Linked DNA regions of Homo sapiens. The protein of the gene in region 1 interacts with the protein of each later gene in a biochemical or structural test. Each region holds a gene or a part of one and is shown in the gene's direction. Other genes may lie near its edges.

Region 1 (7,284 bases):
AATGCAAATCAAAACCACAATGAGATACCATCTCACACCAGTTAGAATGGTGATCATTAAAAAGTCAGGAAACAACAGGTGCTGGAGAGGATGTGGAGAAATAGGAACACTTTTACACTGTTGGTGGGACTGTAAACTAGTTCAACCACTGTGGAAGTCGGTGTGGCGATTCCTCAGGGATCTAGAACTAGAAATACCATTTGACCTAGCCATCCCATTACTGGGTATATCCCCAAAGGATTATAAATCATGCTGTTATAAAGACACATGCACACGTATGTTTATAGCGGCACTATTCACAATAGCAAAGACTTGGAACCAACTTAAATGTCCAAAAACAATAGACTGAATTAAGAAAATGTGGCACATATACACCATGGAATACTATGCAGCCATAAATTATGATGAGTTCATGTCCTTTGTAGGGACATGGATGAAACTGGAAACCATCATTCTCAGCAAACTATTACAAGGACAAAAAACCAAACTGCATGTTCTCACTCACAGGTGGGAATTGAACAATGAGAACACATGGACACAGGAAGGGGAACATCACACACTGGGGACTCTTGTGGGGTGGGGGGACGGGGGAGGGATAGCATTAGGAGATGTACCTAATGTAAATGACGAGTTAATGGGTGCAGCAGACCAACATGGCACATGTATACATATGTAACAAACCTGCACGTTGTGCACTTGTACCCTAAAACTTAAAGTATAATAATAATAAAATTTAAAAAAAAGGATTCTAATCAAAACAAGCAGTTTTGTTGTGTTTTGTTTTTTGTCACACCAAGCTGACCATTTTTATTCCAAGCATTTAGAAAGAATCAATCTTGTACCAACAGAGAAATGCAAACCAAAACCACAATGAGATATCATCTCACACCAGTTAGAATGGCAATCTTTAAAAAGTCAGGAAACAACAGGTGCTGGAGAGGATGTGGAGAAATAGGAACACTTTTACACTGTTGGTGGGACTGTAAACTAGTTCAACCATTGTGGAAGTCAGTGTGGCAATTCCTCAGGGAACTAGAACTAGAAATACCATTTGACCCAGCCTTCCCATTACTGGGTATATACCCAAAGGATTATAAATTATGCTGCTATAAAGACGCATGCACACATGTGTTTATTGCGGCACTATTCACAATAGCAAAGACTTGGAACCAACCCAAATGTCCAACAATGATAGACTGGATTAAGAAAATGTGGCACATATACACCATGGAATACTATGCAGCCATAAAAAATGATGAGTTCGTGTCCTTTGTAGGGACATGGATGAAGCTGGAAACCATCATTCTCAGCAAACTATCGCAAGGACAAAAAACCAAACTGCATGTTCTCACTCACAGGTGGGAATTGAACAATGAGAACACATGGACACAGGAAGGGGAACATCACACACTGGGGACTCTTGTGGGGTAGGGGGACGGGGGAGGGATAGCATTAGGAGATATACCTAATGTAAATGACGAGTTAATGGGTGCAGCAGACCAACATGGGACATGTATCCATATGTAACAAACCTGCACATTGTGCACATGTACCCTAAAACTTAAAGTATAATAATAATAAAATTTTAAAAAAAGGATTCTAATCAAAACAAGCAGTTTTGTTTTGTTTTGTTTTTTGTCACACCTAGCTGACCATTTTTATTCCAAGCATTTAGAAAGAATCAATCCTGTACCAACAGACAAATGCAAACCAAAACCACAATGAGATATCGTCTCACACCAGTTAGAATGGCAATCTTTAAAAAGTCAGGAAACAACAGGTGCTGGAGAGGATGTGGAGAAATAGGAACACTTTTACACTGTTGGTGGGACTGTAAACTAGTTCAACCATTGTGGAAGTCAGTGTGGCGATTCCTCAGGGATGTAGAACTAGAAATACCATTTGACCCAGCCATCCCATTACTGGGTATATACCCAAAGGATTATAAATTATGCTGCTATAAAGACACATGCACACGTATGTTTATTGCGGCACTATTCACAATAGCAAAGACTTGGAACCACCCCAAATGTCCAACAATGATAGACTGGATTAAGAAAACGTGACACATATACACCATGGAATACTATGCAGCCATAAAAAAGGATGAGTTCATGTCCTTTGTAGGGACATGGATGAAATTGGAAATCATCATTCTCAGTAAACTATCACAAGAACAAAAAACCAAACACCACATATTCTCACTCATAGGTGGGTATTGAACAATGAGAACATATGGACACAGGAAGGGGAACATCACACTCTGGGGACTGTTGTGGGGTGGGGGGAGGGGGGAGGGATAGCATTGGGAGATATACCTAATGCTAGATGATGAGTTAGTGGGTGCAGCACACCAGCATGGCACATGTATACATATGTAACTAACCTGCACATTGTGCACATGTACCCTAAAACTTAAAGTATAATAATAAAAATAAAATAATTAGAAGATAATATTGCCAAAATTAAAAAAAAAAGAATATGACCCCTAGAGTTTTCTAAATAGTTGTCAGCATTTTAGTTAATTTCCTAAACTAATTTTTGCTTTTACAACCCAAACCTCAAAATCATCCATCCTACACTAATTTAATGTAATGAATAAGAACAACTGTAGGCATTTCAGTTCTAATCTGTACGGTATACAAAAATCTAAGATCTTTCCCCTTTGATACATGAAGGAATGGTATCCAAAGTTCATTCTCACTAATATATGAGGACATGCAGTTCCATCCTGCCTACGTAGTTAGATTCTTAACTGCTAAAAATAGGCAATGTAACTTTGTAAGGGCTACATTACATGTCCCCACTTTCCTCCTTTATCCTGCTTGTAAGTTTCCAAGGGTAATGGGTGGCTACCCACTTAATAACATTATTAAGACACGATGAGAGATTTGAACCTTCTCTGTCCCAGATTGTCATCTTGCCTAAAAATCTCAAGAATTTCTTAAAGTTTACCACCTGATTCTTTTTTCTGTTTAACAGTTCATAGCCTGCCTGCACTAGTACCATTGTTCAGCCATGCAATACAGTGGTAACTGCTCATAGCACCTGCACATCTATCATTGCTCAAGCTTCATGCTTCAAAGAGCTCTTTTCTTTGGCATTTTATCAGGAGGGTGATTTCAGTTTTGTGATTTCAGCATTTCACAAAGCAAGACAATTTCTCCCACCCAAGAGCCTACGTTTGCATTCACATCAAAACTAGAGTCCAGAGAGTTCATCATCTGAAATAACACTACAAGATTTTGTAAGCAGAGTGCCAAGGTAACAGTATTATATAGAAATAAGTACAGAAAATATATTATAGCAGCTGTTTCACTTATAAACATTTCTGTAGAGTATTTTAAGCTTTTCTTAAAATTTTTAAAATATGTTTATAAATCTTTCGCAAGAAGTTCTAAAGGCCCTCTGTATGTGAGTTAAAAGCTATCTGAAGTCTCTGTTCCATTTTCCACATGCATTTTAATTTTTGCATGTTTTTCTGAACTTTTTGCACTATGAAAATTGAAATTTATCTAAAAGGACTGATAGCCTTAGTAGGTTTTCAGCAATTGTCGGAAAACAATTTTGTGCATAGGGAGTTTGTAGTCAGTCTGTATAAAAGATTCAAATACAATATATGTTAACATTCTCAAAGATATTTTACTTGCTCTTAACATTTGCTTAGAATGAAATCTAATGCTTTCATGTGCCCCATGAAAATAATTATATTAGGCCGGGTGCAGTGTCTCACACCTGTAATCCCAGAATTTTGGGAGGCCGAGGTGGGTGGATCTACAAGGTCAGGAGTTTGAGACAAGCCTGGCCACTATGGTAACACCCTGTCTCTACTAAAAATACAAAAATTAGCCAGGCGTGGTGGCACGCTCCTGTAATCCCAGCTACTTGGGAGGCTGAGGCAGAAGAATTACTTGAACCCGGGAGGCAGAGGTTGCAGTGAGCCAAGATCGCACCACTGCACTCCAGCCTGGGTGACAAGAGTGAGACTCTGTCTCAAAAAAAAAAAAAGGTTATTTTTGGACTCATTCTCTTTTTAAATTTGTTTGCCTTGAAAGCAGAAATAGCAGTAAATTCCATGCTTATTTTACATACACATGTCCATCTTAAATGAAAACCAAATGATACTAGTAATAACTGACTAAAATCTTAGACATTACTTAACTGTCTGCGTCTTTCAGTTTCTTTTGTTTTATAGTCACTTTCACCTGTTCATTTAAAAAATTTCTGAGTACCCTTTATGTATGAAGTCCAGTCTAGGTGCCCGAAATATACAAATGAACAAAACAAACAGAAAATCCTTGCTCTTTTGTAGTCCAGCATCAGGAGACACAAAATAAAGAAAAAACATAACAAACTGAAGAGAAAGAGCAAGCTAAGAGGTTCTGGGAGGGCTGGAAGGGCAGACTGTGATTTTAAATTAATTGGTCAGAATAGCACTCAAAGAAAAAATGACAATTGTGCAACGGCTTGAAGGAGGTGAGGTACTTAAGCCCTGGGAATCATGGTTAGAAGAGTGTTCTAGGTAGAGGGAGGAGCCAGGGAAAATAATCTATGGCTGGAGCTTAACTACCCTGTTCAAGGAATAGTAGAATGCTCACAAATTCAACAATGAAAACATCAGTAGACTAATTTCATTTAGTCTAATATCCTCTGAGCCTACAGTTAGTAGGCATGTATTGAGTCATTCTTTATTACAATAAACTAGTACATTCTCATAAATATTATTTTAAATTTTATCTGCACATGTTCATACTCACCACATTTCAATGCATGCATTTTTATTAAAATTATACATTTCCTTTTTTTCATTACATTGTAAACTTCAGGATGAGGAATTGGTCCTCAACCACTATATTTTCAATGTTATTTTCTAGACTCAAGATATTCAACAGATGTTTTTATCTGTAAATAGAGGGTAAAAAGACAAGAAAGATCTTAGTTACATGAATCACAGTGGTCAGATCTTTGGGTTTTTGCCTCAATTTCCTAATGCGCAATTGAAAGACAATTAATTAATTGTTAAATACGTAAAATATTGCATAAATGTAAATTAAATCATTTGTTTTTCACAAATATATGAATTATGAATAGGAAATCTGAGAAATAAAATGCAGAAATACAAAAGCAGTTCTTCAGAAGAAAGCAATGTAATTTAAAGAACACTGGGAAAATCAAAAGATATTATGTGATGTGGCCAGTGATGACATTTTGTGAGCTGTTGACCTGGATTTTCAACTCTGATGGCCAATTTCCATCTGCTCAATGCTGGCCACCTGGATGGTACAGTGATTTGGCCCTTAGGGAAGAGTTACCTTCCACATTGATCCATTTCATGCTTTGCCTATTTCTAAAATCATGTCTCTCCTGACTAAACCTTGCCAACCTTCATCTGAATCCCTAATTTGCAGTCAAATGACAAGTCCATTTCATAAATACTGTATCTTCCTAGTTCTGAGGTGCCTCATAGGCCCTTTACATCAGAGCTTTCCCTGATTTGTTTTAATCTGACTGCAGGTAAGCTTCAAAATTGTTTAGCTTAAAGTATCTTATTTTAAACTTTTTACTATTTCCAAATTCCCAAAAGAGATATGAACATTGTTCATTGTACATTGCTATTTATTATTCATTCATCCTATATATATTTATCTCCAGCTATATATCAAGGACTGTGATAGATGCTGGGAGTAAAAAGATAATTAAGACATTCTGTCTTCAGGAATTTTAGGCCTAGTGGAAGAGAAATAACAGCTGACATTCTACTTTGATTAGAGCTGTCCAGGATATTATCATTCACAAGTATACAATCAAAGGAAATGGCTTATGCTTACCAAAGTCATAAAAGCTAATGCATAAAACAGTTGCATAAACCAATAATCTATTTGCAAATCTCAAGTTAGTATTTTCCTCACACTAACGTGAATATTTACACATAATCACTATTTGGGGAAATCTTCCCCAATATCAGATTATAAGAGAAACCAAATTAATATTCATAAGGTTACGTAGTGAGCAGGCTATTAAAGAAATCTAAATAGTCTTAAGCTATAGTCAGGCTATAGAAGAGTACTGACTTGAACAAACCCAGCCCTAGCAGCCTAGTAAACCTCCATAGTGACTTAACAGTTGATTTCCTGGAGATAATATCTCCACTATCGTACAATGCAGGCTACACAGCCACATCCTAGTTCCTATCTCTCTCTGTTCCAGGCTCTCTGGGTTTTTGTAAACACTGATTTTCTTCAGGCCAATCAAAATATATTTGTCCGTGTTTGAGTTAGCACTACCCATTCACTTAGATAGGTAGAAATGAATAGTGACATAGCATAATTTCTTGAGACTTACCTTAGGCAACTGTCCGTATATTGCTTCACCATTTTTTAATATATTGACTATTCCCTAGGCATGATGTGTATTTAACTGTATTGGCAGAAAAGCATGATTTGCAATAAGCTATTGGAACTATTATGAGTATTATATTTGTCAAAAATGACTTTTTTTCTTTATAGGTTGTCAAAATGATGATTATTGTTGTCATGACATTTGCTATCTGCTGGCTGCCCTATCATATTTACTTCATTCTCACTGCAATCTATCAACAACTAAATAGATGGAAATACATCCAGCAGGTCTACCTGGCTAGCTTTTGGCTGGCAATGAGCTCAACCATGTACAATCCCATCATCTACTGCTGTCTGAATAAAAGGTAAAAACAAAACTACGAAATGCAAGTTGCTTGTCACACCCACCTTCACTGGAAACATACAATGTTGTTCCATTTTCTTGGTTCAAATTCAAAATGCAGAAGGAAGGGAAAATTTAAGAATTCACTGAGAGAGGCACAGGCTTTATCTTTCAAGACCCCCATACACACTTTATAAAGCATCCCACATTAATAATTAGATGCCCCAAATAATGATCTTGGGGTTCTAACTGGATGATTCTTCTATGGGCCAACTTCTTCCTCCAAAATCTCAGAATTTTACCTGCCAAAGAAAAAGAAGTGCCCTCATGATTAAAGGAGAATTGAAAATATGCTCAAATCCTCAATGAAATGAAGTTACTTCCTAGAAATTCTTGAATAATTTCTATAAGATGGAGAGATGATGGCATATGTGAGCGGACTTTATTAAAAAGGATATGTTGTAAATAAATAAACTTTGAAGTAGAAGGTTTTGTAAAAACAATGGGAACTCCAATCCTCCTTCCTGCATTGTGAGGTGGGGTGAGTAAGAGAGCATGCAGCCTCTATGGAGATGGCTTGTGAAGAAATCACAGTGGTCAAGG
Region 2 (7,900 bases), on another chromosome or scaffold:
TTTTTAATTTATGTTGCAAATTTAATTTGCAACATAAAAAATGAGGTATTAATGAATTACTTGTTCACCAGTCTACTAATCATGAATTTAGCATGCATTAAACATATGTACTTTATTAATATGTATTTTTTCATAAACTTATCCTAGGAAATAAAACAGGTAATAAAGAATGCAAATATCTCAACCTCTACAATGTTCAAAGGGAAAGTGTGCAAAACGTGCATGTCTTAGTAGGATCCCTAAGTTAGCAATTAATGAATGATGTGGGGAATGTGGGAAATGTATTCTTGGATATACCTTTTATCTCATTATTGTTTACTACTCAATTCTGTGAAATAACCTCTATTTTATGTACTATGGCACATTTACAACATACAGCATCTGAATAAAATTATACAACTGGTTATACAGAACTAGCAGTTTAGATATTATAAAGTAGCTGTCTTGTTACCTCATAAACCATAAACCACATTAGTATCTGAGAAATTAAAAAAATTTCTAAAATGTCCCACTTCAGGTATAGAATTTTACAAGATTTAGGGGGAAATTATCACATCGTTTCTTATATTAAAATAACAACAATAGCAATATAAGCCTAAACCAAAAACCTAAAAAGAAATGGTTACTAGACATAAGAGAGCAGAGAGATAGGGACTGAAGGTACACTTCTTTCAATACATAATGTTTTTTGTTTGTTTGTTTGTTTTTGAGACAGATTCTAGCTCTGTTGCCCAGGCTGAGTGCAGTGGCATCTTGGCTCGCTGCAAACTCCACCTCTCGCGTTCAAGCAATTAACCTGCCTCAGCCTCCCAAGTAGCTGGGATTACAGGCGCCCGCCATCACGCCCAGCTAATTTTTGTATTTTTAGTAGACACGGGGTTTCACTGTATTGGCCAGGCTGGTCTCAAACTCATCACCTTGTGATCCACCCACCCCGGCCTCCCAAAGTGCTGGGATTACAAGCGTGAGCCATCACGCCCGGCCACATAATGTTTTTAATATTTGAGTTTAGAACCATGTATTTTACATAATTCTAAACTTACTTTTAAAAAATGATCCCTATAACTTGAGCAGAATGAGAAAATGAATCTACCTGTGTAAGAGTTGGTAGCATAACCATACAAAGAACTTGTAAAGAGACTTTATAACACAGTAATATGACCGAACATACCTGGTGTGATATGCTCTAAAGATTAAAAAAGAACAAAACTGCAAACAAAAACTCTTAATCTGTTTCCAGTAATGATATTGTTGATCATATTGGCACCATGTATTGGGATAAAGCTAATGAATAATCATGTTGATGTCATTTGGAGTATGGAAAAAGAGATGCAAAAGGTTAATTAAAAACTCTATGAGATCCTGATTTGAAAAGAAAGTCGGTATACATTCATGATTATAGATACACACACACACACACACACAGAGAGACACACACACACACATTGTTCTCAGCTCTGTCTGCTGAAAAGGTCTTGAAGCAATGAAGAACTCACTAACAACGTGTAAAAATAAAGCCCAGTTTATGATCTCTAATGGTCATTTTCAATTCTAAAATTAGGGCCCCTTAAAGGCAGATTTCGGGTCAGAAGCAAAACGTATATAACTTTGACCCGAAACATTTTGTCATACCAAAAACAAGAAAAAGCCATCAAAGCCTATTGGCATAAAGTCTCAGGAGTCACTTTGAAGAGTCACCTGCAGGCCAAGAATAGGTCTGAACTTCAATTAGAAGAATGCCTGCCATGGATTGAAATATAGTTGGCCCCCTGTATCCATGGGTTCTGCATCTATAGATTTAACCAAACATAGGTCATAAATATTTAGAAAAAAATGCATCCGTGCTAAACACATACAGACTTTTTCCCTTTGTGTTATTCCCCACATAATACAGTATAACAACTATTTACACTGCCTTTATATTATATTAAGTATCATAAGTAATCTAGAGATTATTTAAAATATATGAGACGATGTGCATAGGTTATATTCAAATACCACACCATTTTGCATCAGGGACTTGAGCATCCACAGGTTTTGATACCTACAGGAGGTCCTACAGCCAATCCCCTATGCATACTGAGTGATGACTGTATGTCAAATGTGTTTAAATCCAGGAAGTCATAATAATCCTAATTTTTTAAAGTGGGTCTTATTAAAAGGTGTTAATTTACCAATTCATTATTTTCAAAATTGGTAGAGAGACATAATCAAGCATTTATCCCATCTTTCCTATATTAATAATGCTTTAGAATAACTAGTTGCTGAGAAACATGAAAGAAACAAGTCTGCCTACCAGACAAATAATGAATGATAAAATCAACATAGCACTGTTTTGAAAATACTAATGAATTAATAGATCTAGAAAATGATAGTCAATGGCTGCTAACAACTCAAAAGGAGAAACAACCACATATCATGTGCTTCCTACCAGAACAACACAACACATGTGAAGTAGTCTCATCAAAAAAAAAAAAAAAGAAAAAGAAAAGGAAAAAGAAAAAAATGTACAGAGGATCAAACTTCTAGATACAACTACCAATTAACAGGAAATAATCGAAACAGAGAAACAAGTTAAAAGGCAATCAGCAAAGTCCAGAATGCGGTACACTCTCCTGACCTGTCTTATCAATAAACTACAATAGAGAGAGAAAGAGAGAGCGAATTACAGATTCAGGGAGATTTAAGAAACATGCAGTAGAAGGAATGTTCGTGTCCCTCCAAAATGCATGTGTTGAAATCGTAACCCCTAAGGTTATGGTATTAGGAAGTGGGGTCTTTGGAAGATAATTAGATCATGATGGTGCAGCTCTTATGAATGAGATCAGTGCCCCGATAAAAGGGACTTTGAAGAGCTCTCTCATTCTTTCCTGCCATGTGAGGATATAACAAGGAGACAATATGACAGTCTGTAACCTGGAAGAGGGCCTTAAACACAACCAGACCATGCTGACACCACGATCTCAGACTTCCAACCTTCGAAACTGTGAGAAATAAATTTCTGTTGTTTACGTCACCCAGACCATGGTACTTTCTTACAGCAGCCTGAACTAACAAAACCAATTGTAATGTATGGACTTCATTATAATTCTGATTTCAAGTAGTAAACTGTGTGGGCCGGAATTAGGAAGCAATGAGAAATATTTGAATGCTAACTGGATATTTAATGTAAGGAATTATTTTATGTTGTTTTAGGTGGGATAATGGCGTGGATATGTTTTTATTTTTTTTAATTCCTACCTTTATACAGACATGCTGAAATATTTACAGTTGAAATGATTAACTGTCTGGGATTTTTTTCAAAATAATCTCAGTGCAGAGGAAACTGGAAGGGTTGTAGATGAAACTTGGAAGTGGATGTTTCTCTCTACTTTTGGATATGCTTATAATTTTCCATATAAAAGTTCTGAAAACGGAAAATAAAATGCTCACATTGTGAGGCTAAGGCCAAAAGAAATCAGAGATGCATGAGAATTTCCAAATTCAGGATTATTTAAGAACAACATAGAGAAAAAAATACTTCTGGTTTGAGTTGCAAAAATTTATTTCTTTTATGCAATATACTAAAAAATCATAATTAATTGAAAAATATAATACTTCATATGTAAAGGGGAGAAAACTACTCCACCAAAGATGTCACATCTTTTAATTCATTTGGAGATCAAAGAAATGTGTCTGCCAGGCAACCAAGGGCTCATGGAAAGGTGTGGTTTCTGTACAAATGCTATTTGTCTAATATTTTGTGCTGTTAATGACTGTCCCATTAGCATCTTCACTACACTTACTTTCATAGAAAGGAGAAACATGATTTATAGAGCCCTTTAGTGACAAGGGTGAGGATCCTACACACTATGTTGCTGGTTTCCTAGTCTTCAGCAAGAAAGTGTAGGAGAGAAGCAAAAAACGTCCTGTTCAACCCCTGCTCCTGGATGTGGCAAGGAAGAGGAGTTACCCGGCTTGAAACAAAAGAAATCCTAAGTCTGACACACAATGTCATGTTTAAATTCCCCTTTCTCCAAAATGTAAAATAAATCTGCTTCCATCTTCTAAAATACTATGGGACTAAACATCCTTTTGTTATGCTAAGGAAAAGCCAGTATTCGCGTTGATTTAGAAGAGGGATGTTCTGGTTATAGAACGATGCTGTGTCTCAGAAACACTTAAATACTATTAAGCTAGAAATAGAAGGGAAAATAATGCTTCCCCGCATCTCCCCTCAAGTGTAGTCCTCTTTTTTTAGCCTGATTTCCGACGAAATGTCTGAATGCCTACAGTTATTTGGCCATCCTGAAAAGTGCAACTTATCCTGACGTCTCGAGGGACGGAAAAGTTACCGAAGTCCAAGGAATGAGTCACTTTGCTCAAATTTGATGAGTAATATCAGGTGTCATGAAACCCAGTTTCGAAGGAGAGGGGAGGGGGCGTCAGATCTGCAGACGGAAGCAGGCCGCTCCGGATTGGATGGCGAGACCTCGATTTTCCTAAAATTGCGTCATTTAGAACCCAATTGGGTCCAGATGTTATGGGCATCGACGAGTTACCGTCTCGGAAACTCTCAATCACGCAAGCGAAAGGAGAGGAGGCGGCTAATTAAATATTGAGCAGAAAGTCGCGTGGGGAGAATGTCACGTGGGTCTGGAGGCTCAAGGAGGCTGGGATAAATACCGCAAGGCACTGAGCAGGCGAAAGAGCGCGCTCGGACCTCCTTCCCGGCGGCAGCTACCGAGAGTGCGGAGCGACCAGCGTGCGCTCGGAGGAACCAGAGAAACTCAGCACCCCGCGGGACTGTCCGTCGCAGTAAGTGCCCGCGCGGTGCTGGCCGCGGCTGCCCGGGTCACCCCGCCCCGCATCTGTCCGAGGTGGCCGCGCTGGGGGCGCCGCTGCGGCGAGGGACAGTGGGGAGACTGGCTTCCCAAACGCCAACGCCCCTCTTTGTCTTCCACCTGCAGAGTTTCCTGGTTTGAAGGTGTGGGTTGGTGGGTTAGGGGGCTGGGGGAGTTGGGATTCAGGGAGAAGAGGGTTGGAGAATCTTTGGGACGCGATTCTCTCGCCTAACCGGTACAGGTGAGACTTCAGTCCTTATGTTTTTGATCTTGGTTCATCCGTTGTGGGGCAGAAAATTCTGTTGCTTTAACTCTTGGATAACCACCCCTAATAGATACATTATTTCTCTCTTTGGTGTCTTCTCCTCCTACCCCTTCCCAGAAATCCAACATGAAAATCCTCGTGGCCTTGGCAGTCTTTTTTCTTGTCTCCACTCAGCTGTTTGCAGAAGAAATAGGAGCCAATGATGATCTGAATTACTGGTCCGACTGGTACGACAGCGACCAGATCAAGGTGAGGCCCCTTCCCAGGACGGCCCGCACCCTTCTTCCTGGGCTCGGGAGCTGTCACCTTCCCACGCAACAGCACCCTAGTTAACGTGGCACGCACCGCCACCACGGAAAGAGGCAGCGGTTGCGTGCGAGAGGATGGAAAGGGGCACTATTTCCCGGGTTCCCCACGGGATTTTGTGCCCACGATTCAAGTTTCTTCCCGAGGGCTGCACCGTCCGGCCCAGGAACTCCCTGCAGTAGGGATGCCCTCCCGGATGAGCCCGAGATCCTCACAAGGCGGGAAATCTCGTAAGATTTCATCCCCCAGGACCTGGGATTTCGGGGGCTCCGGTCCAGCTGCACTGCCCTAGCGTCTGGGCACGGGCAGAGGAGGGCGCCTGGGTCGCGGGCAGCAGCGGGCACACGCGCGAGCTGCAGGGGGATTGGAGGGCCGGAGGCTGGAGGGAAGTTAATTTCCTGCCTTCACGTTTGTTTTGCGGACCTGAGGATGTAGCTTGAAGTCTCCCTTTAGAAACTCGTAGGCTACAGGCGCTGGGGAGCGCGCCTCGGAAAAACGGTGAAAGTCGTCTGTAAAGCGTTGTCACCCTTCCCCACCGGAGCCCCAGCCCCAGATCCCACACACCTGTGTGCATTTAGGGCGGTGAGGACTCTACAAAGCCGGCACCGAGACAAGACAAAGTCAGGTGGCGGCGCAGCAGATGAGGGAAGGTCCCCGGGCTGGGAGGAAAGAGCGGAAAGCGCTCGAAGCTTGAAGACGCCGAGCCAGCTGCTAACTCGCCCTGGCAGGCTTGCGGGGGGCGGGACGCGAGTTCGGCGGGGAGGGGCGCAGAGAGGCAGCGCCTCGGGAGGGACCCCGCTCAGCCCGAGCGTGGGGAAGGCCGCCTCCCCACGCCTCGGGGCCGGAGTACAGCGGGGGGAAGGGCTCGGGTTGCTGGGTGCCTCGCTCTGGTTGCCTTACACGCCCTTTGTCCGTGCTTTTGTCTCCCAGGAGGAACTGCCGGAGCCCTTTGAGCATCTTCTGCAGAGAATCGCCCGGAGACCCAAGCCTCAGCAGTTCTTTGGATTAATGGGCAAACGGGATGCTGGTGAGATAGGCGACCGTCCCTAGGTGTCTTGGGCAGCCCGCCCTGTCTGCTCACTCCTTCCTGGAGTACCCCAGGGTCTCTCGCTCTGAATAGAGATTTCCACTCCAAGAGGGGTGTAATTCCCCAGGCGCGACATTGGCCCACACCGCACTAAGGCACGCACGGGCCCGCGGGGGGAGGGAAAGATCTGGTTCGCATGCCTCACTGTATTCGAGTGAAGCGCTCCCTTGACTAAAGATCCAAACTGACAAAGGGAAGGCACGGGCCTCCAGGGGTAGTACTGCGGATGATCCAAGTGCATGTGGAAGAGGATTTTATAGCATTCCCTGAGGTGAGAGTACATTTGTCTTGGGATAGAAATATCGTTTCCTTGAATTCATCGCACGGTCAGTGGAACATGTAGTTAATGACAATTCGTCTCTTGTCAGATTCCTCAATTGAAAAACAAGTGGCCCTGTTAAAGGCTCTTTATGGTAAACATTCCTATAAATCTTTATTTTACTATTGTGAAAGCACATGTAGGAAAGTGAAATAAAATCTTTTATGGGCTGAAATACAAGATCTGGGTCATGCCTGTTTAATAAAGAGATGGATTTGCGCACTCTCTCTCGGTTTCTCTCTCTCTCTGTCACTCTCTCTGTCTCTCTCTCTCTGTCACTCTCTCTCAGTCTCTCTCTCTCTCTTTCTCTCTCTCTCTCAGTGGGTGGCCAGCCTTGAAGGTGGGATGTGTTACAGTCTTATAGTTAATAAGAGGCCTCAGAAGTCTCATAGTCCTAGGTTTGAATCCCATAGAAGGCACTTAATAAAAATTCCATTTGTTTGTTTAAATATTTAGTTTTTATGATTAATAATTTGTTTAGCATTTATGGTTCTGCTTTATTCCTCAGGATAATATATAGATAGAAAATGTTACATATTTTGAGAATCAAATTATTTTATAAAAGATATAATGTAGCATCTTTAAAAACAAATCTATATGTGTTTGCTAATTTTATCTTTCTTCTAGGACATGGCCAGATCTCTCACAAAAGTAAGTTCAAAATTATTTTGACATTTATCAAATTTAAATGTAAAATTATATTGAATTTCACTTTATTTATCTTACCTTATTTTCTGTCATGACTCTAGGGCTTAATATGTTTAATGAAGACAATATAAGAATGGGGGAGATTCATATTACATCCAGAATATGGTTGTTTAGACATATTGTACTTAGCAAAGAGATGCATTATATTAAAAAAGAAAAAAATGTCTTTTAAGTCCCTTCAATTGTTAGTTTTAGAGAAGAATTTCAATCCTAGGATTAGAAATCTACCATACATATTTCTTCCCAGCCACCCACCCCCTAAGCTTACTTTCACTGTAAACAAACAAACAAACAAACACGAAACCCCCACAAGCATTTATAGGCATCTCCTAACTCATTTTAGTATGCTTGGTCCAATAATGATGTCATTTATTAGGGTCATCCAGCAGCCA

What was found.
Region 2: the proteins of TACR3 (region 1) and TAC1 form a complex in vitro, tested with the Homo sapiens proteins (one study listed by BioGRID).

Annotation. Positions count from the first base shown.
Region 1 is NC_000004.12:103,590,906-103,598,189, reverse strand, and holds part of TACR3 (neuromedin-K receptor), read left to right. Parts: intron 1-4,757; exon of another isoform or gene 4,758-4,902; intron 4,903-6,506; coding exon 6,507-6,703; intron 6,704-6,746; exon of another isoform or gene 6,747-6,983; intron 6,984-7,284. UniProt on the Homo sapiens protein: This is a receptor for the tachykinin neuropeptide neuromedin-K (neurokinin B). It is associated with G proteins that activate a phosphatidylinositol-calcium second messenger system.
Region 2 is NC_000007.14:97,727,399-97,735,298, forward strand, and holds the start of TAC1 (protachykinin-1 isoform beta precursor), read left to right. Parts: upstream 1-4,687; 5' UTR 4,688-4,797; intron 4,798-5,205; 5' UTR 5,206-5,214; coding exon 5,215-5,337; intron 5,338-6,324; coding exon 6,325-6,421; intron 6,422-6,849; coding exon 6,850-6,894; intron 6,895-7,427; coding exon 7,428-7,451; intron 7,452-7,900. UniProt on the Homo sapiens protein: Tachykinins are active peptides which excite neurons, evoke behavioral responses, are potent vasodilators and secretagogues, and contract (directly or indirectly) many smooth muscles.